Homo sapiens: one gene and its partners. The protein of the gene in region 1 interacts with the protein of each later gene in a pairwise test. Each region holds a gene or a part of one and is shown in the gene's direction. Other genes may lie near its edges.

The links.
Region 2: the proteins of TRIM32 (region 1) and TRIM5 interact in a two-hybrid assay, tested with the Homo sapiens proteins (one large-scale study listed by BioGRID and IntAct).
Region 3: the proteins of TRIM32 (region 1) and PELI2 interact in binary tests that used the Homo sapiens proteins (3 or more experiments, as listed by UniProt).
Region 4: the proteins of TRIM32 (region 1) and UBE2U interact in binary tests that used the Homo sapiens proteins (3 or more experiments, as listed by UniProt).
Region 5: the proteins of TRIM32 (region 1) and MOB1A interact in binary tests that used the Homo sapiens proteins (3 or more experiments, as listed by UniProt).
Region 6: the proteins of TRIM32 (region 1) and PTCD2 interact in binary tests that used the Homo sapiens proteins (3 or more experiments, as listed by UniProt).
Region 7: the proteins of TRIM32 (region 1) and CASS4 interact in a two-hybrid assay, tested with the Homo sapiens proteins (one large-scale study listed by IntAct).

The regions. Positions count from the first base shown.
Region 1 is NC_000009.12:116,699,552-116,701,799, forward strand, and holds the end of TRIM32 (E3 ubiquitin-protein ligase TRIM32), read left to right. Parts: coding exon 1-153; 3' UTR 154-1,748; downstream 1,749-2,248. UniProt on the Homo sapiens protein: E3 ubiquitin ligase that plays a role in various biological processes including neural stem cell differentiation, innate immunity, inflammatory resonse and autophagy.
Region 2 is NC_000011.10:5,675,075-5,678,574, reverse strand, and holds part of TRIM5 (tripartite motif-containing protein 5), read left to right. Parts: intron 1-140; coding exon 141-371; intron 372-3,500.
Region 3 is NC_000014.9:56,289,411-56,292,910, forward strand, and holds part of PELI2 (E3 ubiquitin-protein ligase pellino homolog 2), read left to right. Parts: intron 1-857; coding exon 858-1,046; intron 1,047-3,308; coding exon of another isoform or gene 3,309-3,356; exon of another isoform or gene 3,357-3,500. UniProt on the Homo sapiens protein: E3 ubiquitin ligase catalyzing the covalent attachment of ubiquitin moieties onto substrate proteins. Involved in the TLR and IL-1 signaling pathways via interaction with the complex containing IRAK kinases and TRAF6.
Region 4 is NC_000001.11:64,210,123-64,213,622, forward strand, and holds part of UBE2U (ubiquitin-conjugating enzyme E2 U), read left to right. Parts: intron 1-619; coding exon 620-717; intron 718-3,500. UniProt on the Homo sapiens protein: Catalyzes the covalent attachment of ubiquitin to other proteins.
Region 5 is NC_000002.12:74,152,028-74,154,879, reverse strand, and holds the end of MOB1A (MOB kinase activator 1A), read left to right. Parts: 3' UTR 1-2,352; downstream 2,353-2,852. UniProt on the Homo sapiens protein: Activator of LATS1/2 in the Hippo signaling pathway which plays a pivotal role in organ size control and tumor suppression by restricting proliferation and promoting apoptosis.
Region 6 is NC_000005.10:72,351,373-72,354,872, forward strand, and holds part of PTCD2 (pentatricopeptide repeat-containing protein 2, mitochondrial), read left to right. Parts: intron 1-1,268; coding exon 1,269-1,382; intron 1,383-3,500. UniProt on the Homo sapiens protein: Involved in mitochondrial RNA maturation and mitochondrial respiratory chain function.
Region 7 is NC_000020.11:56,439,760-56,443,259, forward strand, and holds part of CASS4 (cas scaffolding protein family member 4), read left to right. Parts: intron 1-3,500. UniProt on the Homo sapiens protein: Docking protein that plays a role in tyrosine kinase-based signaling related to cell adhesion and cell spreading. Regulates PTK2/FAK1 activity, focal adhesion integrity, and cell spreading.

The DNA.
Region 1 (2,248 bases):
AAGGGTGGGGGCTATAGTGTCCTTATTCGAGAGGGACTTACCTGTCCGGTGGGCATAGCCCTAACTCCTAAGGGGCAGCTGCTGGTCTTGGACTGTTGGGATCATTGCATCAAGATCTACAGCTACCATCTGAGAAGATATTCCACCCCATAGGGGATGAGAAATTATCAGTTTCTTCTGCTCCCAAGCCAACTTCCCTTCCCTTAGTTCTTGGTTGTTAGTGGCACATGCAGAATAGACTCAGCCTATGTCCTGATTCCAGCTGGGTAGTTCTAGAACTTCAGAAGCTCCATCTTTTAATGTTTTTATTTGTTATGTCCCCCTCCCCGCTTCCCACCTAAATTTAGAGCTTTAAAAGATGCACTGCCCAAATAGGACACACGATGGTGTTAGCTGAAGTTTGATTAGCAATTAGGCACTTCCAAGGCTTTAGTAGAGAGAGCCACTTTAGCCCTTTGTGCCATGTTTGAAATTTGCCCTTGTATTAAATCCTTGATTTTTTCCCATTTGGCTTTGATGCCCTTGATCCATTGTTTCCTTCCTACTATAATGTGCTTCATCTGTGACACTTTCTCTTGAACTCTGATTGGATTCACTGTGCATGCTTCAGTGGGATCTGCTCCACCTTTCAGTGACATTTAAGACATCATATTCCCGTAACATTATGTCTCAGTCTGATCGTCTTTACCAGTATGAAAGTCATTCATTTAGTGCTACCAAAGGGGATACACAAGCCCTTTAGGAAGCAGTACCTCTCGCCTGGAGGATCTGTGCCATCTTGGATTGAGAATTGCAGATGTGACAGAATGGATTGACCCTAGTTGGTTGGTATTGATGACTTCAGCCTGGAAATTGCTTGCCTTTTAAAGAAGCATATATGGGTTGGAATTATGCCAAAGCATAGGAAGCTGGGAATAAGCAAACAAATGCTGATATAGTCAGCAAATTTGGATAGTCTCTAGGGCTCATCATTTTTCATACTACCTCTCTCTTCTGGCCTGTGTCTAAGGAATTGTACAACATAGGCCAGGGCCAACAAAGTGGAGAGGTGGACACATTTTCATGTTCATTACTAAAACAAACAGCAAAACTATTGGTTTGTTATTCTGTGTTTTCCTCAAGTCAGTACATACTATTTGGTTTCAGGATTTCTTTCCATTTCTCTATCAAGCATTAAATAATTGAGAACTGTTTCTTCATCTCTGGTGTTCATGTCTTTTAATTAAATACGGAATTTTGGAGATGATAAGAGGGATAACCTGCGCTATGCCATTTTGCTTCCTTATCTCACTGTGTTCTTTCAGAGTGTAGATATCTACCCAGGTCAAAATTCAGCCAAAAGCACTATTATGTAAAGATAATAATCCAAATCTTTCTCCCAAATACATGTGTACAGAATCATCCCCCAAGGTTTAGAGTCACCAATACCCTATTCTGAGCTTCTGCTGTATGTTTTATGTTTATAATTACAGTTCACAAAAAGGAAGTTAGTCTTGTTTTTAAGATCAGAAGTGGGTGAGAGGACCTGTGATGAGGTTCCTGAGGGTTTGGTGTTTACTAAGTAATATATCTTACTCTAGGTGCAGGGCTGATGGCAAGCCAAAGAGCAACTGCCTTACTTTGATGTAAACAAAATTTGCTAAACTGAGCTGCTCAAAATTGTTTTTATGGTAGTAGTGTTTCTTTGGATTGTATCATAATAGCTGCCAAAGGATAGGTAAAGAGGTCATTAAAATGATGTTGAACTAGTTTGTCTTGTTCTTTTCATCTGGAGAAAGCCCCATATTCTGATTATGAAATTGCATCCGATTTTCAAAGATTGGGTAATTGAGAGGAAATTGATCCAATTGAAAGTGCATCACAAATGACTCCACTAGTTATTAGAGCCACTTTATCTGTGGGGGCACCCAGCAGCAGGAGATCTGTCTTTGCTGTCAGTGGGGGACTTGCTGAGGCAATAACAGTGGCTCAGGCCTTTGGCACACAGTTTGCAGTGGAGAGAGAAATATAATATTGTGGGCAGGCTGAAGGTAAATGAGGCCAGGAATCCTCCAGCTGTCTGTGCTTTTGAAAGAGGTGCCATCACTGAGTGACATTCAGCATTTAGATCTCTACCCATCTAAACCAGTCATGCCTTTTCCCTCAAGTAAAGCAGTTATCTGTTGGCTCAAAATGGAAGTGTGATCTGAGTCTTTTTCCTTTTTCCCCTTTGATGTGAATATTTTAGGCTGTGCTTAGTACAGTCGAT
Region 2 (3,500 bases), on another chromosome or scaffold:
AAGGCAGCTTTCCTAAGACCTACTCTCCTGCTACTATGTCCCCTCCTTGTGAGAACTCCCCAAAAGAAACAGCTCCTTTTCTGGCTAACAGCCTCTGCCTGGTAGACTGAGTGCCCCTTTCTCTTCTCTTATCTCTGAAGACTCAAATACAGTATGACAAAACCAACGTCTTGGCAGATTTTGAGCAACTGAGAGACATCCTGGACTGGGAGGAGAGCAATGAGCTGCAAAACCTGGAGAAGGAGGAGGAAGACATTCTGAAAAGCCTTACGAACTCTGAAACTGAGATGGTGCAGCAGACCCAGTCCCTGAGAGAGCTCATCTCAGATCTGGAGCATCGGCTGCAGGGGTCAGTGATGGAGCTGCTTCAGGTAAAAAGTGGAAAGAAGCCTGAGCACTGAGATTAAAGAAAAGTGAAGGCTATTTCCTTCTCTGCGTTGCTGTGCTTTTTCTAATATTAACAATGTTCTCTGCAGGACCGCTTTTCTGAATCAATTGCTGAAGTTATAAGAATAATTGAATGTAGAAGTAGCAAGAGATAATCCCATTTTTATTAATTTATCCAGAGCAGTAGAAAAATTTGACGTAGTGGAGATGATCAATTAGCTCTAGTCATGTTTGATAGGTTCCTATTCTCTGTATTCTAGTGTTGAGACTTACCAGTGCAGCTTTTCATTGCTCAGCTTAGCCACTGGCAAACAAATACACGTCAAAATACAAGATGCTTTTTATTTTTTTCCTTCATGGAATTAATTGAGACTTTTTCCTTTTTTTTTAATTTTCTGAAAAGAATTAAATAACTGCTATCATTTCTTCTTTATATGCTCAATAGAATTCACTAGTAAAGGCTGGGCGCGGTGGCTCACGCCTGTAATCCCAGCACTTTGGGAGGCCCAGGAGGGCCAGTCATGAGGTCAGGAGGCCCAGGCGGGCCAGTCATGAGGTCAGGCGATTGAGACCATCCTGGCTAACACGGTGAAACCCCGTCTCTACTAAAAATACAAAAAATTCTAGATCCCTGAGGAATCGCCACACTGACTTCCACAATGGTTGAACTAGTTTACAGTCCCACCAACAGTGTAAAAGTGTTCCTATTTCTCCACATCCTCTCCAGCACCTGTTGTTTCCAGACTTTTTAATGATTGCCATTCTAACTGGTGTGAGATGGTATCTCATTGTGGTTTTGATTTGCATTTCTCTGATGGCCAGTGATGATGAGCATTTTTTCATGTGCTTTTTGGCTGCATAAATGTCTTCTTTTGAGAAGTGTCTGTTCATGTCCTTCGCCCACTTTTTGATGGGGTTGTTTGTTTTTTTCTTGTAAATTTGTTTGAGTTCATTGTAGATTCCGGATATTAGCCCTTTGTCAGATGAGTGGGTTGTGAAAATTTTCTCCCATTTTGTAGGTTGCCTGTTCACTTTGATGGTAGTTTCTTTTGCTGTGCAGAAGCTCTTTAGTTTAATTAGATCCCATTTGTCAATTTTGTCTTTTGTTGCCATTGCTTTTGGTGTTTTAGACATGAAGTCCTTGTCCATGCCTATGTCCTGAATGGTACTGCCTAGGTTTTCTTCTAGGGTTTTTGTGGTTTTAGGTCTAACGTTTAAGTCTTTAATCCATCTTGAATTGATTTTTGTATAAGGTGTAAGGAAGGGATCCAGTTTCAGCTTTCTACATATGGCTAGCCAGTTTTCCCAGCACCATTTATTAAATAGGGAATCCTTTCCCCATTGCTTGTTTTTCTCAGGTTTGTCAAAGATCAGATAGTTGTAGATATGCGTCGTTATTTCTGAGGGCTCTGTTCTGTTCCATTGATCTATATCTCTGTTTTGGTACCAGTACCATGCTGTTTTGGTTACTGTAGCCTTGTAGTATAGTTTGAAGTCAGGTAGTGTGATGCCTCCAGCTTTGTTCTTTTGGCTTAGGATTGCCTTGGTGATGCGGGCTCTTTTTTGGTTCCATATGAACTTTAAAGTAGTTTTTTCCAATTCTGTGAAGTCATTGTTAGCTTGATGGGGATGGCATTGAATCTGTAAATTACCTTGGGCAGTATGGCCATTTTCACGATATTGATTCTTCCTACCCATGAGCATGGAATGTTCTTCCATTTGTTTGTATCCTCTTTTATTTCCTTGAGTAGTGGTTTGTAGTTCTCCTTGAAGAAGTCCTTCACGTCCCTTGTAAGTTGGATTCCTAGGTATTTTATTCTCTTTGAAGCAATTGTGAATGGGAGTTCACTCATGATTTGGCTCTCTGTTTGTCTGTTGTTGGTGTATAAGAATGCTTGTGATTTTTGTACATTGATTTTGTATCCTGAGACTTTGCTGAAGTATACCATTTGACCCAGCCATCCCATTACTGGGTATATACCCAAAGGACTATAAATCATGCTGCTATAAAGACACATGCACACGTATGTTTATTGTGGCATTATTCACAATAGCAAAGACTTGGAACCAACCCAAATGTCCAACAATGATAGACTGGATTAAGAAAATGTGGCACGTATACACCATGGAATACTATGCAGCCATAAAAAATGATGAGTTCATGTCCTTTGTAGGGACATGGATGAAATTGGAAATCATCATTCTCAGTAAACTATCGCAAGAACAAAAAATCAAACACCGCATATTCTCACTCATAGGTGGGAATTGAACAATGAGATCACATGGACACAGGAAGGGGAATATCACACTCTGGGGACTATGGTGGGGTGGGGGGAGGGGGGAGGGATAGCACTGGGAGATATACCTAATGCTAGATGACGAGTTAGTGGGTGCAGCGCACCAGCATGGCACATGTATACATATGTAACTAACCTGCACAATGTGCACATGTACTCTAAAACTTAAAGTATAATAAAACAAAAACAAAAACAAAAAAAACACAACAGAAGAAAAAAAAAAAAAAAGAAATGCAAGAAAGCTAGCACCCCCAGGGGCATCCTTCAACCAATGGGGTTGGGAGTTGATGGAGAAATGCCTCAGCTCTCAGTGTTTCGGGCAGAGATTCTGGGGCATTCCCAGGAGGTTTGGTGGGATCATGATCCCATAATGCCCAGAAACAACCCCAACAGCTTACTCATACATTGGCTTCTCCTCCTCCCTGTCTTACCTCCCTGCTCCCTCATTCCTGCTTCCTGGGGTCAGGTAAATCACCTGGACCCAGGTCCTTGTCTCAGGCTCTACGTTCAGTGTTTCTCATGCTGTATTCCTCGGAACCCCAGGGCACCTTAGGATGTGTCTACCCCTCTCTCACCTGCATTTGATTTAATGCTCTGTTGTCATCATCTTGAAATGTTTAATAAATTTTGAACAAGGGGCCGCATATTTTCATTTTGCATTGTACCCCACAAATGAAAAAAAATAATACAAAAAATTAGCCAGGCGTGGTGGCGGGCACCTGTAATCCCAGCTACTTGGGAGGCTGAGGCAGGAGAATAGTGTGAACCCGGGAGGCGGAGCTTGCAGTGAGCCAAGACTGCACCACTGCACTCCAG
Region 3 (3,500 bases), on another chromosome or scaffold:
TTCCAGCCAGAGAAGAGGGTGGCAGAAGCACTGTTTCTTCCTTGTCTCTTCTTAGAGCACAGACACCTTTCTTGGAAGCCTCCAAGAAGATATCATGTGTCATCAGTCAGAGCCCAGTCATGTGCTGTGCCCACCTGTAAACCAGCTATTGGGAAGAGGGCTGGGAGTGTCATGTTGGGTTAATCAGGATTCCCCACCACCCCCCAACCCCCGCCCCAGCCACATGAACAGTAGCTGAGCTCTGTCACCAAGAAAGCTGAAGGGAAGAGCTGTGGCACAAGCACCCAAGAGTGTCTGTCCTGTCGTCATGTCAAGCTACATGCGCCATCTACCTTTGAGAATTTAAACGGTGATTATTATGAAAACATAATGACCCCGACTTGTTGGCTTAACATTTTTGGAATTTTCTAGCTTTAATAAAAGGTCTTTCTTTATGACTGTCCTTTCTCTTCTCTATCCTGACAGTGAGAACATAGAAAGTACTTTTAGATAACAGGATAGGAGCATGGCATAAGTATAACTGAAAAGAGAAAACACACCAGATTCCTGGAATCTCATGGGGTTGTGGGGAAGGTAAAAAGAATCTTAGAGGGAGAAGCCCAGGCCTCGATTTTTTGCAAGTTCTTGAGAACTATGATGTGTGTCCAGTGATAAGTCATTCATCCATTCAGCACTTCTTTTATATTGTCGAAAGGATGGCATATGTTATCCTTGTGATTATTAGCTTTAAATAGAAAATGAAAATTCATCACCTTCCTCCCCTCTGCCTCTATGCAATGTATTAAAGAAATTCCAGAATCCTTTCCATTTCAACATCATCTTAACCTACTTTTTCTGTTCTGCTGTGTTCTCTCCAGGAAAAGGCAGCAAAGTGGAAAAACCCCGACGGCCACATGGATGGGCTCACTACTAATGGCGTCCTGGTGATGCATCCACGAGGGGGCTTCACCGAGGAGTCCCAGCCCGGGGTCTGGCGCGAGATCTCTGTCTGTGGAGATGTGTACACCTTGCGAGAAACCAGGTCGGCCCAGCAACGAGGAAAGCTGGTGAGTGTGCTTCACTCTGCAAGTGTGAAGTACGAAACTACTCAAGCCTAACTCGAAGGCTATCATTTTCCTCCCCTGATGTTCAGAACCTTTGTGCAGGTCCAAGCGCCATGTACTGTAACTCAGGAGAAGCAGAATTCCACAAGCCCCTGAAATCAAGAGGGAAATGGCCTTATCTCCTTCAGGGGTTCAACTTTTCCCATAGTGGGAGTAAATTGTGTTTTGCTCCTTACCACCTGAAGAGCATTATCTTTTATTATATACCTCACCACAAAAATCTACTTAAATTCACTTTAAGGAGAAGAAACTTATTTTTAGTGTAAAACTTTATTGATTTGGAAAACGTTTGAGCAGTCCAAAAACAATTAGTAAAAATTATGCATTAAGGAATTATTTACTAGACTTTCTGGAAGTAAAAAATAAGTCAGCTGGTTTTCCCTTTGAATTCCTATATATTAAGGCAGAATTCTCTATACTGTCCACCAAAATCATAGTTACAACTGTTTACTTGAAATGATTTATATACTGCATTGACCTGGCATGTTAATATTTTCCTATAAATATCACCACTTATCCCCATGCCCTAAAGCAGTTTTTTTAAACCCATTCTTTCTTGGAGAATAATTATAATACCTTAAATATAGAACTTTGGGTTTCTGATCTTGCCATAGCCATGTAGCACAGCCACTGATTTTTAGTAAGCTGTCCATTCCTGTACTTTTCTTAATTTGCTAGGTAGAAGCTAGAACGAGAGAGAACAAATGTCTTTTTCTAGAAGCTAGAAAAGAAGGAGTTCTTCAAAACTCCCACAGAATAAAATGTATACAGAATAGAGGATTTGACCTAGCACTTGTCAGAGAGAAAGATCATCACCAAAAATGTCTAAGATGGAAAAAGAAGTTGGGGGCTGTTTCACTGACCTCATTTGCTGTTCTCTACTGGATGTTTGTGTTTAGGGAATGGTTATTTTTATTTCTATTTTACACCATTTTTCAGCTTCAGGCACAGCGTATGCGTCTTACAGTGCACCATGGCTGAATAAATATGAGAAGCATTTTCTAAAAAAAAAGCAAATTCAATAAATTTTGTATGAATGTTTTCAAGAAATTGTAAACAAAGGAGGAAATGTGAAAGCAGTTTTTCTAAATAATCTTTTGTTTCTGATCACTGGATAGTTTTATACAAAACTGACCTAGATTGGCCAAACTGGTTATTCATCATTATAACAGCAAGAGTAAGAAGTCAGTAAATGGTTGCTGGGTGCAGACTCTGCGTTAACATTTCCGACATGAGCTCACTTCATCTGCACAGCAGCCCTCTTAGGGAAGTAGAGTCATCCCCATTTCATGGATGAGGAAGATGTGGCGTGAAGTTAAAGATTGCCCAGTGTCACAGAGTTAGCAGGTGGCAGCCAGTGGGATTCAAACTCAGGTCTCCCTGATGGAGAGCCTGGACACCTAATACTACTCAGTACCATGTTGTGGGGAGCCAGGGATGGTTTACACCTGAGCATTTGCCTCCCTGGGTGAGTATAAAGCATACGCTGGAGTCCGTGGGGAGCGCCTTTGTCCAGGAGGGCATATCACAGGATGAGTTTCTCGTCCACTCTGGTTATTGTGTAATGACCCTTCTCAGGCTGCTATGTGTGCTGGAGAATTTTACAGTGCGACTGAAAAGAACGAACTCCAAAAATGGCTTGTATTAATGAGTTGTATTAAATATACAGGCTATTTTTGAAGTTAGTCCCTATAAGCGACACTGAGAACTATGTAAAATTGTGCTGTCCTATTTGATAGCATCCGATTAACCTGGCCAGTTACAAAGGCTTCTATCAGCCTGATCTTGGGCTTATGGGACACTGAACGGATACATTCTTCCTGCAATCTCCTCTTGTTAACCTCTGGAGAACAGTTTTTGTCTGTCTTCGAGGAAAGCTTACTGACTCTTTGAACTTCTGTTTCAATTCATGACTCATTGGTCCTGTACATGTTGCTGGTAGCATTTGATATAAATTATGTTTATCTGGAGGTTAGATTTTGGAGACAGTCTCTGGCAGTACTTGTCATTTGCAGTCTAATACAGAAATATGAGAAATAAAGTGAGCTGCTAAAAGTCTAAAATATTTGTTAAAACAATAGTAGTCACATTGTGGAGCTAGTGCTGGTGGAAGATTATGTATTAATATCATACTGAGCATTTGATATGAATCAATATACTAATGTATGTGTAACAAGAAATCACCGTTGTTTTTCATTATTACAGCAAATGATGGAACCTCAGAACTGTGTACTAATCAACAAAATTAATTAAATATGGGGGAAATGTCTTTTCAGGCCTTTAACTCCCTGAATAAATAGGTGAATGGAGTTTGAATTGTGCCCTCCTTTTTTAGCTAGTTAATGATAACATATGGTAACATTTATAATATTACTCCAGGAGGGCCTTGAGTATTTA
Region 4 (3,500 bases), on another chromosome or scaffold:
CAGTTGTCTTTCATCTTAGATGATCCTTTCCCAAAAGAAAATCAAATAGTCATTTTAAGTTTCTTCTAGTCATTCTACAGTTTTATTTTTCTTATTTAACTCTATTATTTTTTCAAACACTAAATTACTTAACTGTGTTAGGGCATATGCCAAGCTCCTGTACATCTTTCCAACTTAACATAACAGGACAACGCTGGAGGGAGGTTGTGCCCATCCTCAATGTGAAGATTCCATTTCTGGGACTAAGGCATTTACTGTTTGTCACCATTTCCAGTCTGGGGGAAGGGGGAAGAAAAGAAGGAAAGCCAGCTTCCTTTAAAAAAAGACTCAGAAATTGCACACTTATCCTTATGTCCCACAACAAAAACTTAGTCACAAGGCCACATCTTGCTAAAGGAGAGGATAGGAAAAACTGTAGGGGCACCTATGTATTCAGCTAAAACAACATGGTAATGGGTGGGAACCAGGGATGGGTATAGTGCTTCTCAGTACAGAGAGAAGAACTAGGAAAAAGGAAGAGTAAATGCAGATAATTTTTCTGGCTTATCATTTTGATGTTTGTAAGTTTTAAATAATAATTTATTATAAATGCAAATATTAATGTATTATTTTAATACAGTAGACCCACACACTGGTCAGCCCTGTATAGACTTTTTGGACAACCCTGAGAAGTGGAATACAAACTATACATTGAGCAGCATCTTACTTGCCCTACAGGTAAGAATGGATTTCATATAATCCTCTCTTTAATACTTTTAATTACCCTAATTATTCAAACTACAAGGATTAAAATATACAATGCATATTTAAGTGTTTAAAGAATTTGAGAAGTTTATTTAAATCCATACTTCTATATGAAGGCTACAAAGTGGAACTTACTTAAATTATAAAAACTATTATTTAAAGTGAAATTGATAGTTAAGGCCCCTCAAGACCAAAGAATGCATATCTTATAAAAGAATAAAATAATTATTTAGATGGTTTCAATTCTGAAAATATAACCTTAGGTTTTCTTTTGGTTCCTAACTTCACTTCCTGATGTTGAGCAAGCCTTTTAGATCTTTCTTCATTTATGGACCTTGCCTTCCTGAGAGAGGTGGATCGAATGACTACAACTTAAAATGTTCACTTTTGTTTTTTGTTTCTGACAGTGCTAGTTAGCTACTTTCTGTCCCAATAGTGTTCACATCAAACCCAGTGAACAATTTATACCAAGGATTTTCTCCTCTCCTCAGATGCCTGTTTCTCAGATGCCACCTTTACCCACTGGACCCATGGTCCTTAGAAGCATACCTCAGTGTTGTGCTATTTCTTTTCTTTTCTTTTTTTCTTTTTGAGACAGGATCTTGCTCTGTCACCCAGGCTAGAGTGCAACGGCACAATCCTGGCTCACTGCAGCCTCAACCTCCTGGGCTCAAGTGATCCTCCCACCTCAGCCCCTCAAGTAGCTGGGACCACCGGCATGCCCTACCATGGATGGCTAATTTTTTAAATTTTCTGTAGAGACGGGGTCTCACTATGTTGCTCAGGTTGGCCTCAAACTCCTGGGCTCAAGCAATCCTCCCACCTCAGCCTCCCAAAATGCTGGAATTACAGGCAAGAGCCACCACATCCACCCAGTGTTGTGTTATTTCTGGTCCTTAAAAATGCCTCCTTTCTCATCTAATGCTAAAATGAATTATTTCAGTGAACTTGCTTTGACCTCTTAGAGCTAGCTTAGCAATAATCTATCCATGACCTACTTATCACCAATAATATCTGAAGATAAATAATTACATTTTGATTATCTAGAATACTTGGAATATAAAATACTCTGGCATAATTGAGTTTTTAAATATAGAATTATAATATAAATTGCATTTCTTCTATTTCTTGTATTTGAAAATAAATAAAATAATACTTTCCTGGCTAGTCATCTTAGCATACTAAGTAAAATATAATCTTTAGGAAAGATTCAATGTTCAGTTCATTCATTCATTCTACAAATATGTATTGAGGATCTACTTGTGTGAGGTTGTGTTCTAGGAAGGAGACATTTGAGCAAAAAATTTAAGGGAGTGAGTGAGTGTGATATGCAGAAATCTGGGGTTAATCCTTTGGATTCCTTTAAACTGAGACATATTCTGATCTCATCCACCTAAACTAGAGTCTGCCCTAAGAATAGCAAAATGATCCCAAAATGTAATGAGTAAGGGCAAACCAGAATGAACTGGTGAAAATTTTGAATTGCAGAATAATTTGATAAAAGGAAAATGTGGGGCTCTGAGTTAGCTTGCTTGGCTTCACATCCTGGTTCTGCCACTTGATACCTTTGTATCTATCATTGGACAAATTTTTCCACTTCTCAATGTCTCAATTTCTTCATCAGTAAAATGGGGCTGTTGTTACCTCATGTAACCTGTGAGGAGGAAATTAATTAATGTGTGTAAAGAATTCGGAACTGTGCCTGGTCCAAGAAAATAACTCAATAGTTAATACAGGTCGAGTATTTCTTATCTGAAATGCTTAGGAATTGGAAATTTTTCCAATTTTTGAATATTTGCATTACATATACTTACCATTTGAGCATCCCAAATTTGAAAATTTGAAATCTGAAATACTCCAGTGAGCATTTCCTTTGCACATCATGTCGGTCCTCAAAAAGTTTTGAATTCTGGGGTATTTAGGATTTCAGATTTTCAGATTTAGGATGCTGAACCTCTAGTTAGTTAACATTATGATTGTTCTTACTATTAAAGAGTAATGCAAAGTGACACCAAAGTGTTGCCAAATATATCATGGAAAGCCAGTAGATAACACAATTTTGTCTTTTTATTTTTCGAAAACATTAATAAAACAAATATGCCCACATTACAAAAGATTTTTAAGATAATGGGAAGGAAAAGAAAATCACTGACAATTATAAAGAAAACCCTTAACTTTACTGTTACTAGGAAAGAGCTTTCTGCTCTTTTCTCCTGTTTTTCAGTTTAAAATCTTTCAGTGGATCCCACCTTCTCCACAGGTGTAAGCTCTAGTTCTGTTGCATATCTAATCCTCACACCTAGACTCTCCCTAACACACCAGGCAATCCTGCTCATACTTATATCTTCATGCTTTTCTGCACTCACATTGCTTGGGTCAATTCAGATAAAAAAAACATTCATAGAGTTCTAAAGTTACCTTAGAAATGGTCAGTCTCCAGTTCCCCTCTGCCTGGCAACTCATTTTCTCCTCTTCTCTTCCTCAGTCTGTCCAGCAAGCAGTTGTTCATGTTGTTGTAAGAGTTGGAACAAATGAATCGTCCTCTAGGATACCTTTTCTGATTTATTTTCCTAGGGAGAATTAATAGCTTTGGTTTTGGGGGAGCTTCCTTTGCTACACACCCAACAGTACCCTGAGCAGATTTCTGTTAGAACACTAATACTATAAAGCACACACTGCTTACTTATCTGTCTTCCCCTATTGGACTGCAAGCTCCCCAAAATCAGGAAACAGGTCTAATTCATCCTTGATTTCCT
Region 5 (2,852 bases), on another chromosome or scaffold:
AGTGTGGGACAGTCATTATTAAAAAAAAGAGAGAAAAGCCCTCTATTAGACATTCCACAATCCATGTTTTAAGCTTATCCAAAGGTCCAAATGTCAGCCATTCTGTATGTTCATGTTGATCATTTGCGAACAAGAAAGCAGGTTTCTAGGTATCACTTAGGATGTGAACTGCCTCTCAACTTTAAACCCTGTTAGCTTTACTTTTTTAAGTCCACAAGTGATGAAACTAGTTTCTCAGCTAGGCTTGTACTTTCCTCATTATTTCTAGTATTTCAAATATTCTCAAACAAAAGAGTTACCACTTTTCTCCATTTATTTTCAGTTATGGAAATGTTCCCTCTCTTCACCACTAAGCTCCAAAGCAAATGAAAGACGATCACATGTCAGGACAGTAGTAAAGGCAGCTTATAAATGGGACATAAATCAGAGATGTGTTGGTATTTTGAGACTCAAGACTGTCCTTTTTTAAAATAAAAATAAAAACATTACCAGGTTCCCAAGCCAATCTGGCTTAACCAACAGTGCACTGAAATATTAGTGTTTACCTCCAAGGCTAGGGAGCCAAGGGGAGGAGGAGAATTGGAGGAAGGGGAGATAATGGGAAGAGGATGGCGCCTTCCTGAGTTGGCTAGAGGGCCAACCTTTGATAACAGTTTGACGAAATCAATCTTTTTTTTTTTTTTTTTTGAGACAGAGTCTCACTCTGTCACCCAGGCTGGAGTACAGTGGTGGGATCTCGGCTCACTGCAAGCTCTGCCTCCCAGGTTCATGCCATTCTCCTGCCCCAGCCTCTCCTGAGTAGCTGGAACTACAGGTGCCCGCCACCACGCCCAGCTAATTTTTTCTATTTTTAGTCATGCCTGGCTAATTTTTTGTATTTTTAGTAGAGATGGGGTTTCACCGTGTTAGCCAGGATGGTCTCCATCTCCTTACCTCGCAATCCGCCCGCCTCAGCCTCCCAAAGTGTTGGGATTACAGGCATGAGCCACCGTGCCCGGCCTATAGAAATCAATCTTTTTGACTCTTCTCACTTTTATCTCCCCATGCCCAAGGTTTGCCTGTTCCATAACACTCACTCCCTTCCCCCTTGCTAATCAGAAGCCATCTCCTCTCAGTGTCTGATCTCTGCTCTTCATACATGATTACAGTCATGGGGTAGAGAGTGCTTGCTAAATTATGCAGTTAATCCTATGGTGCTTTAATTTTCAGGCCTTCAAAAAACACTTGTACAGTGATGTGCAGATTTTTAAACAGTTGAACTTCCTTGTACTACAGTTTTTGTATTGACAGCCAAATTTGTCTTTCATTCTTCAGATTGTGAATAAAGTGATTTTTACAGGGCTTCCAGCAAAGTTTTTCCTTTCATCTAAGGCTTGTAGAACCCTAGCTTATATAGCTGCTTACATGAGAAATGCAAAATCTGTATTCACCATGACTTTAGTAACAAAGGTAAAGTTTTTTAGTAGTGCCAAGGCAAGAGGAACAATCTTGGTGGTAGTACTAAGTTTTGTCAATATTGTGGTTTCCTGATTGTATTGTTGGCTTTCTCTCTGAGCATTGAGGTATACTAGAAGTAGAGCTTCTCAAACATAATATCATTACCTCATAAGCATTAACAAATCAGGCCCAAAGAGCGTAAGTCCTAGAAATTTGTTTTAAAGCAGCCCTAGTCATGGTGCTGGTGCTACCGCCTTGTTTTAGGAGCCTGCCTCCTGTCAGTATGAAACCCTCACCTGAAAAATGCCAGCCTGGACACCAAACACTGAGCCCCTTCAACAGGCACATTATTTCCCCCTGAGATCCATAAGGGAATTTAGTTTCTACTATTGTAGAGTTCTGAAAAGAGGTAAAATAGTAGTCCTTTGGTCATCCTATTTTTGCTTTCAATTTTGATATTTCAGACTGTAAAAGGCCTTGGGGGATGATAGTACATGTGGTAGCAGTAATTTTTTTGAAGCAACTGCACTGACATTCATTTGAGTTTTCTCTCATTATCAGATTCTGTTCCAAACAAGTATTCTGTAGATCCAAATGGATTACCAGTGTGCTACAGACTTCTTATTATAGAACAGCATTCTATTCTACATCAAAAATAGTTTGTGTAAGTTAGTTTTGGTTACCATCTAAAATATTTTTAAATGTTCTTTACATAAAAATTTATGTTGTGTTTTAAAATCCTTAGGGGCTTTATCTATTTTTCTAAGTCAGTTAACTGTACTTCTAAAAAAAGTATTTTGTATCTACTTTTGTAACTTCGTCAGAATAAAATATATTGAAAGCAAGAAATGACTGATTAAAGTATGTATATCAACACACATTTCTATTTAAATATAGAAACTTGAGAGTTTTGCAGATTCTGTGGATTTTTGAGTACAGCTTAAATTTGGAAAGTTATCTTTGCATATCATTTAGTAGCTAAAATGTTTTCTTAGCCGTTAAAAAAGGAAGTTCCTAAATGAACTAAGTATCATACTACTGGGACCGAACCCCTAAGAAACAAACTATGTCTCTGATAGTGGCTAAAACCCATCCCAAACAAAAATACGTGGTCTCCTTCCTGCCATGCAAATCAGGCTCCAGATCTCTTGTACATTCCTGGTTGTGCGATAGTAGAGTTAAAATTAAAAACTTAATGAATGTGGCTAAACAGTACAAGTTAACACTAATTTTATTTTTTTGAGCTGGGGTCTCTGTTGCCCAGGTTGGAGTGCAGTGGCACAGTCTTGGCTCACTGCAACCTCCGCCTCCCAGGCTCAAGTGATCCTTCTTTCTGAGCCTTCTAGTAGCGGGGACAACAGGCACACACCATCATGTCCGGCTAATTTTTTGTATTTTTTGTAAATATGGAGTTT
Region 6 (3,500 bases), on another chromosome or scaffold:
CTCATTAACATTCCAGCCAGCTTCCACTCTGTGCCTGCAGTAACCTGTGTGCCTGCAACTTCCTAAAAACAGAAAACGCTGAAGGTACCATTTGCCCCTAGCCAGTTACTGTTATCCATTTTCACACTGCTATAAAGAATTGCCAGAGATTGGGTAATTTATAAAGGAAAGAAGTTTAATTGACTCACAGTATCACATGGCTGGGGAGGCCTCAGGAAATACAGTCATGGGGGAAGGCGAAGGAGAAGCAAGTGTCTTCTTCACAAGGCAGCAGGAAAGGGAGAGAGCAGGGGCAACTGCCACTTATAAAACCATCAGTTTTCATGAGAACACACTGACTATCATGAGAACAGCATGGGGGAAACTGCCCCCATGATCCAATCACCTCCCACCATGTCCCTCCCCCGACACTGGAGATTATCATTCGAGATGAAATTTGGGTGGGGACACAAAGCCAAACCATATCACTAGTCTTATGAGATTGATTGTCATATCCTCTGAATCTAGAGGATGTAGAAAGGAGGAAACCAGTATTTTTGTTCATTGAGTATCTTCTGTATACTGGTATTTTATTTAATGTTCATAAAACCCAAAATGTGAGATCTAAATCTATTTTCCCCATTTTACAAATGAGGGCATTTAAATTGAAAGATTAAGTACCAGTCCAGAGTCACTTAGCTGGTACTTGCCAGTGTCTAGATTTCAGCCCGAGTATCCAGACACCAAAATCTCTGCCCTCTCCAGTGTTACCCGTAAACAAGTTTTGAAGTTGTAGTATTTTATTTTATTTTTTTGAGATGGAGTCTTGCTCTGTTGCCAGGCTGCAGTGCAGTGCCGCAATCTCGTCTCACTGCAACCTCCGCCTCTCAGGTTCAAGTGATTCTCCTGCCTCAGCCTCCCAAGTAGCTGGGATTACAGGTTCATGTCACCACTCTCGGCTAATTTTTGTATTTTTAGTAGAGATGGGGTTTCACCATGTTGGCCAGAATGGTCTCTATCTCTTGACCTCGTGATCTGCCCACCTTGGCCTCCCAAAGTGCTGGGATTACAGGCAAAGTTGTAGTTTTTGATTAACTATTGGAAAGCACATTTTGGCTCGTAAGTGTACATTTAAAGCACGTTTTTGAACTTGTGTAAGCAAATAAATTAGGAAGTAGGATCAAAGCAGGGTAGGTGCCTATAAATGAAGGCTTATCTAACCAGGTACATTTCTCAGCATTGAGACACTCACTCAGTCTTGGTTTTGCTTGTGTCTTCTTAATATTCAGATTATAATCCATATCCAGTCAAATATGTTGGAAAACCTGATAAAGACTCTAAAAAATGCTGCAGAAGGAAATTTATCAAAATTTGTGAAAAGACATGTGTTCTCGGAGGAAGTGGTGAGTATGCAAGTGCTGCAGAAATCATTTAAAAGTGAAAGGACACTCTTAAAAATGTCCACTAATTTCTCAATTCTAAAGCTTACCTTAAAGAAATTGCCAAATATGGCAGCTTCTCTGTTGTTCCTGTTTTAAGACTTCCATGTATATGTGCAAAGATTTTTTTTTCTTCCAACAGAATATATCCTCTGAAATTCTAGGAAACTTTTCCCTTTTACCTTATTCTTTTCTCCACATTGTATTCATGGGCCCTGGCTCTCTTTTTCTTCTAGATGACGATTTTACACCTTTTTCCTTTTCCCTCAAGCCTTCAATACCTTCTCCTCACTTTTCACTCTCAGTTGATCACTGTATTTCTTGTTTCTTGGAGAAAATAGAAGTAATCAGAAAAGCATGACTGCTACATAGAGAGCCTCTGGCCCCTTGCCCTATATACCCATGATGACTGGATACATCTCTCACACCAGCCTCTTCAGTCATGCACTGGATCCCATCCTCTCTGACCCACTCCACAGCATCAGTCCAGAAGTTGACTCACTCTTTTGGCTATCATCAGTATCCCCTTCCCTGTGGGTCATTCTTGTCAGCAAACAGTAGGATATAGTATCTCTCATCTTAAAAAATAAAAAGAATCTTCTGTACAAATGAAAAGACAGACCATATGTTTAGATAAGAAGACCTAGCCTCATAAAAACTCAGTTTTTTTCAAGTTACTGTGATAATGTAATATGACTCCAATAAAAATATCACTTTGTTTTTTCTGTAAAGGTTAGTTGAAAGAACAAACAAGACTAGCTAGAAAAACCCTGTGAAAGAGGGGCAGTAAGAGTTGCTAGGTCTAGCAGATATCAAAGCATGTTAAAGTTTCTATAATTCAAACTGTGGCTTAGGACATGAATAGGGCAGCTAATGGGACAGAATAGAAAGTCCGGATACAGACCAAATTGCAGATACAAATTTAGTGTAACATAGAGACAAGCATCTCAAATCAATCTAAGTGGATAGACTAGTAAGAAGTAGTACTAGGATAAGTAGAGAGCCAATAGAAAAAGATACAGTTGTATATATTCTTATACCACAAACCAGGATACATTTCAAATGGATGAGAATTTAAATTTTTAAATTGAAATACACAAGTACTAGATATAAACATTAGTAGATTCTTTAATATCCTGGGAGTGGAAAAACTTAGCTTTCAGTCAAAATCCAAATCAGTAAAAGAAGTGATAAATTTGACTAAATAAAAATGTTAAAACCTGTTTTTTCATGTGGCAAAAAGTCTACAAGCAAAGTCAAGAGGTAAGTAATCAATTTTTAATCATACTGACAAAAGGCTAACTAGCCCTAATATTTCAAGAGCTCTTTTTGAGGCCAGGTGCGGTGGCTCATGCCTATAATCCCAGCACTTTGGGAGGCTGAGGCAGGCGGATCATGAGGTCAGGAGATCGAGACCATCCTGGCCAAAATGTAACCCCGTATCTACTAAAAATATAAAAATTAGCTGGGCGTGGTGGTGCATGCCTGTAGTCCCAGGTACTCAGGAGGCCGAGGCACGAGAATCGTTTGAACTAGGGAGTCGAGATTGCGCCACTGCGCTCCAGCCTGGCGACAGAATGAGACTCCATCTGAAAAAAAAAAAAAAAAAAAAAAAAAAGCTCTTTTTGAAAATTCTGAGAAAAGAACCAACAACCCTGAAGAAAAATGGGTAAGAGATGTGGACAGAATTTACTAAAAATGAATTGTGAATGGCCTTTAAACTTTCGAAAAGATTCTCTTGCCCATATCAAGAAAATGCTAAATAAAACTACCCTATGATATTTCTCTTGAATAGAAATCTGCAAGTTTGCCAGCCAACTTGGTTGGTGAGGCTCTGAGGAAATGGGCGCTATCATCTGAGGAAATGCTGCTACAGCGAATACAGATTGGTACACTACAAATACTTTCACCCTTTGACTCAATCCTCCCACTTCTTGGAGTATATTCTAAAAATATACTGGCAAATATAAAGAAGTTGTATGTACAAGGCTATTTGTTGCAATCCAATTTCTAATAACAGCAGACTGGAAAAAAGCCCAAATTTCCATCACTAGACAACTAGTTGTACAAATTAGGGTCTGT
Region 7 (3,500 bases), on another chromosome or scaffold:
TGCGCTATTTCCCTCAAAGCCCTGGCCTTCATGAGGTGTTGAGATGTAGAGCAGATGTGCACAGGCCTCAGTCACTGCAGGCATTTCCTGCCATCAGATGCTTTGCTTTCAGCTCCCATGACACATCCCACCCGGCCACAGCTCTGGCAGAGGGTCTTGGCAAGGTCTGTGTGCAGGGAAAGGCCAAGCTCCCTGAGGCATGTGCTGTGGGGGCCCCAGGAATGTGCTACTCACCATTCAGGCCTTCTCCACACCAGCTTCCAAGGTTGTCTTCAAACAGGAAAGTGTTGATTCCTTAGAAGATTTTGAATACTTTACATTTTCTAACTCCCTGGGCTACAAGACATAGAACCAGACAGTTGTTACATAGAACAGCTGCCAGCACAGGCACTCGCTACAAACACCAGGAGGAAGCTGGTGGCGCCTTCTGAAGCAGTCAATGAGGTGGACACTAACTCTCTTTTCTGGAACAACTGGCCCCGATCTAGGCCTGGCATGCTCAGCTGCTGTCTGAGCAGCTGACTCGGAGCAGAGCTTTGCTGAGGTTTCTTCTAAGAACAACAAGTGACATTAACTGAAGTTAACTTGAATTTCTTCCAAAGCCATGAAAAGAAAAAACAAAAAATCAATAGCAATTCCTTCCTCTCCCTGAAAGGAAAACAGATGCGCTGTCCTCTGTTGGTTGACCAGAGGACCCTCGAAGACCACTTCACAATCAGTTAAGTTTTCTGATCCACAGAAAAGGCTGGCAAGGCTGGCACCTCCTCCCTGCTCATGCCACTCAATACAATGACAGGCTCCTACAAGGTACTTAGTAAATACCTGTTGCATGAATGAAATTGACCAAACACAACACAAGGTTTCAAAAACATGGAGTCCACTATCAACTGCTAGACTGACATCCGTGTGAAAGGAAAGATGAGTTTACTATTGAAACTTAACTTTGAAAAATGATCAGGGCATTAGCAATGAGATTTGTCCTTGATGTTAAGTGCATCAACCATTTGAGGCCTTGCTTGTGCAGGCTGTGGCAAACAACAGAAACCGCAAGGAAATTCAGGGGGGGTCCCTTTAACCACTGAGCAGAGTTCTTGAGGTGGCCACAGTAAAACCCCCCAGGGGAATTTCCTGCCTTGTTTTCCTTCCTTAAGTTCCCTCCATGTCTGCCCTACCTACAAGTTTGCTCCCTTCCTTCCCTCCCTTCCTATTTATTTACTTAAAAAAAAAAATTTTTTTTTTTTTTTTTGGAGGCAGAATCTCGCTCTGTCACCCAGGCTGGAGTGCAGTGGCGTGATCTCGGCTCACTGCAACCTCTGCCTCCTGGGTTCAAGAGATTCTCCTGCCTCAGCCTCCCAAGTAGCTGGGAACACAGGCTCCCACCACCACGCCTGGCTAAATTTTTTTTGTATTTTTTAGTAGTGACAGGGTTTCGCCATGTTGGCCAGGCTGGTCTCGAACTCCTGACCTCAGGTGATCTGCCCACCTCAGCCTCCCAAAGTGCTGGGATTACAGGCGTGAGCTACTGTGCCCAGCCTATTTACTTAAACATTGTTTTAATTTATTGGCTGGGTGCGGTGGCTCACACCTGTAATCCCAGCAATTTGGGAGGCCAAGGCGGGTGGATCACCTGAGGTCAGGAGTTTGAGACCAGCCTGGCCAACATAGTGAAACCCTGTCTCTACTAAAAACACAAAAATTAGCCATGTGTGGTGGTATGCATCTGTAGTCCCAACTACTCAGAAGGCTGAGGCAGGAGAATCGCTTGAACCCGGGAAGTGGAAGTTGCAGTGAGCCGAGATCACGCCACTGCACTCCAGCTTGGGTGACAAGAGGAAAACTCCGTCTCAAAAAAATAATAATAATTTTTAATTTCTTGCCTTCTCTGTGCTTGGAGTCTCTTAGCAAGAGATGTGGTCTGTGGCTTACAACTCAGGAGTGCCATCTCATTTGGCTTCTGGGGCAGCCAATGTTGCACTGGGTGATTGGGGACCTCCCAACACCCTTTGTGTTTCTCCTTCCTCCTCTGTATAGGGAGAAGGTTGGACCCCATCTTTTCTAAAGTCACCTTCAGATGTACCTTTTGGTTTTTCTAAATACTTTCTTCTTCCTCTACTCTGAGAAGGAAGGAGCTAGAAGAACTTGAAGACCAGTTAACAATCAGTTACACATTTTCTGATCCACAGAAAAGGCAGGCGTCTCCTCCCTGCTCATGTCATCTAGCCATTAACCCTGAGGCTAAACCCGCCCAGAAAATACATTCCAAATGGAAGCGGCTGTTGGTAGACGGGGCAACTCTGAGCCACGGGTTTTGAACTGTTTTCCCATGGCAAATTCACAGGCTTGGAACACAGCCTTTGTGAGGCACTTCACGGACTCCTTTCTATATCTGTGTTGACAGTCTGCAGACTAAGAGTGGCCCCAAATTAACATCCGAGAAGGTGGAAACATGTCATTTTTCTCAAGTTGTCCTAAGAGAGGCGTCTATGTGTCAGAATCAGACATCTCTATAGCTGGGTGCGATCTCTGCATATCTTTAGATTAGAACAACTCTTCATTTTACAGATGAGGACATTAATTCCCAGGGAGGTGAAACTGCTCGTGCAGCCACACAGCTGATGAAGTACGACTTCCATCACCCCCCAAAACACAGCCCTTATTCCTTGATCTTCTTTCACCTGACTCTGTGGCTGACGCTATTCTTTCTGATGAACACTTTACTGAAATTTCACCTACAGATGCTACGTTACAGCTCTGTAACTTATATCCAGACCACGAAACAACAAAACTACCACCCCAGAAGCCTCCAGTGCCTTCTCTCTGTCACTTCCCCACTAGGGTAACCACTATCTTGAGCTTTGTTTTACTTTTTATCCCAACTTCCTTAATATAATGTGCTGGCCTAATTTAAAAAAAAAACCCACCACATCAAGAGCATATTTGATTTCAGTTTAAATTCAGAAGGGACTCTTGTATTTCAAGAGAAAAGGGTCAGATTTCCTGGTGAAACTGCTTTTGGATCCACTAGTTCCTGAACTGGAGTTTCCTTCTGTCTCCCTAAACCTTTCGAAACTGTGTTTCTCAAACATGTTCCTTAACTGATTGCCATACTGGGCCTACGTTTTCCAAGAAGCACTGGGCATTTTTGAGCTGGCTTCCTTCCATCTGAAATGTCATACACAGGAAAGTCCCTTTGCTCTGTGGAGGTGCCCTTATAGGCAAAGGGGATCCCACAGTCAGCCATCAAAATAAAATGGGCCTGAAGTCATGGGGAGGAATGGGCCTTGGGACAGCATTTGGAAAGGGTCTGCGGGGGGAGAAAGCTTGGTGTGTTTCTGGGAGGTACCACTGGCGGTACAGCCAGTGGTCCGGGACACTCACTCAAGGTCCCTGGGTGTGGCGGGTGCATAGCTTGTCAGACCGGGTAAGCAGCTTGGATTTCTGGCCTGGCGCGGTGGCTCACGCCTGTAATCCTTCCACTTTGGGAGGCTGAGGCAGGTGGA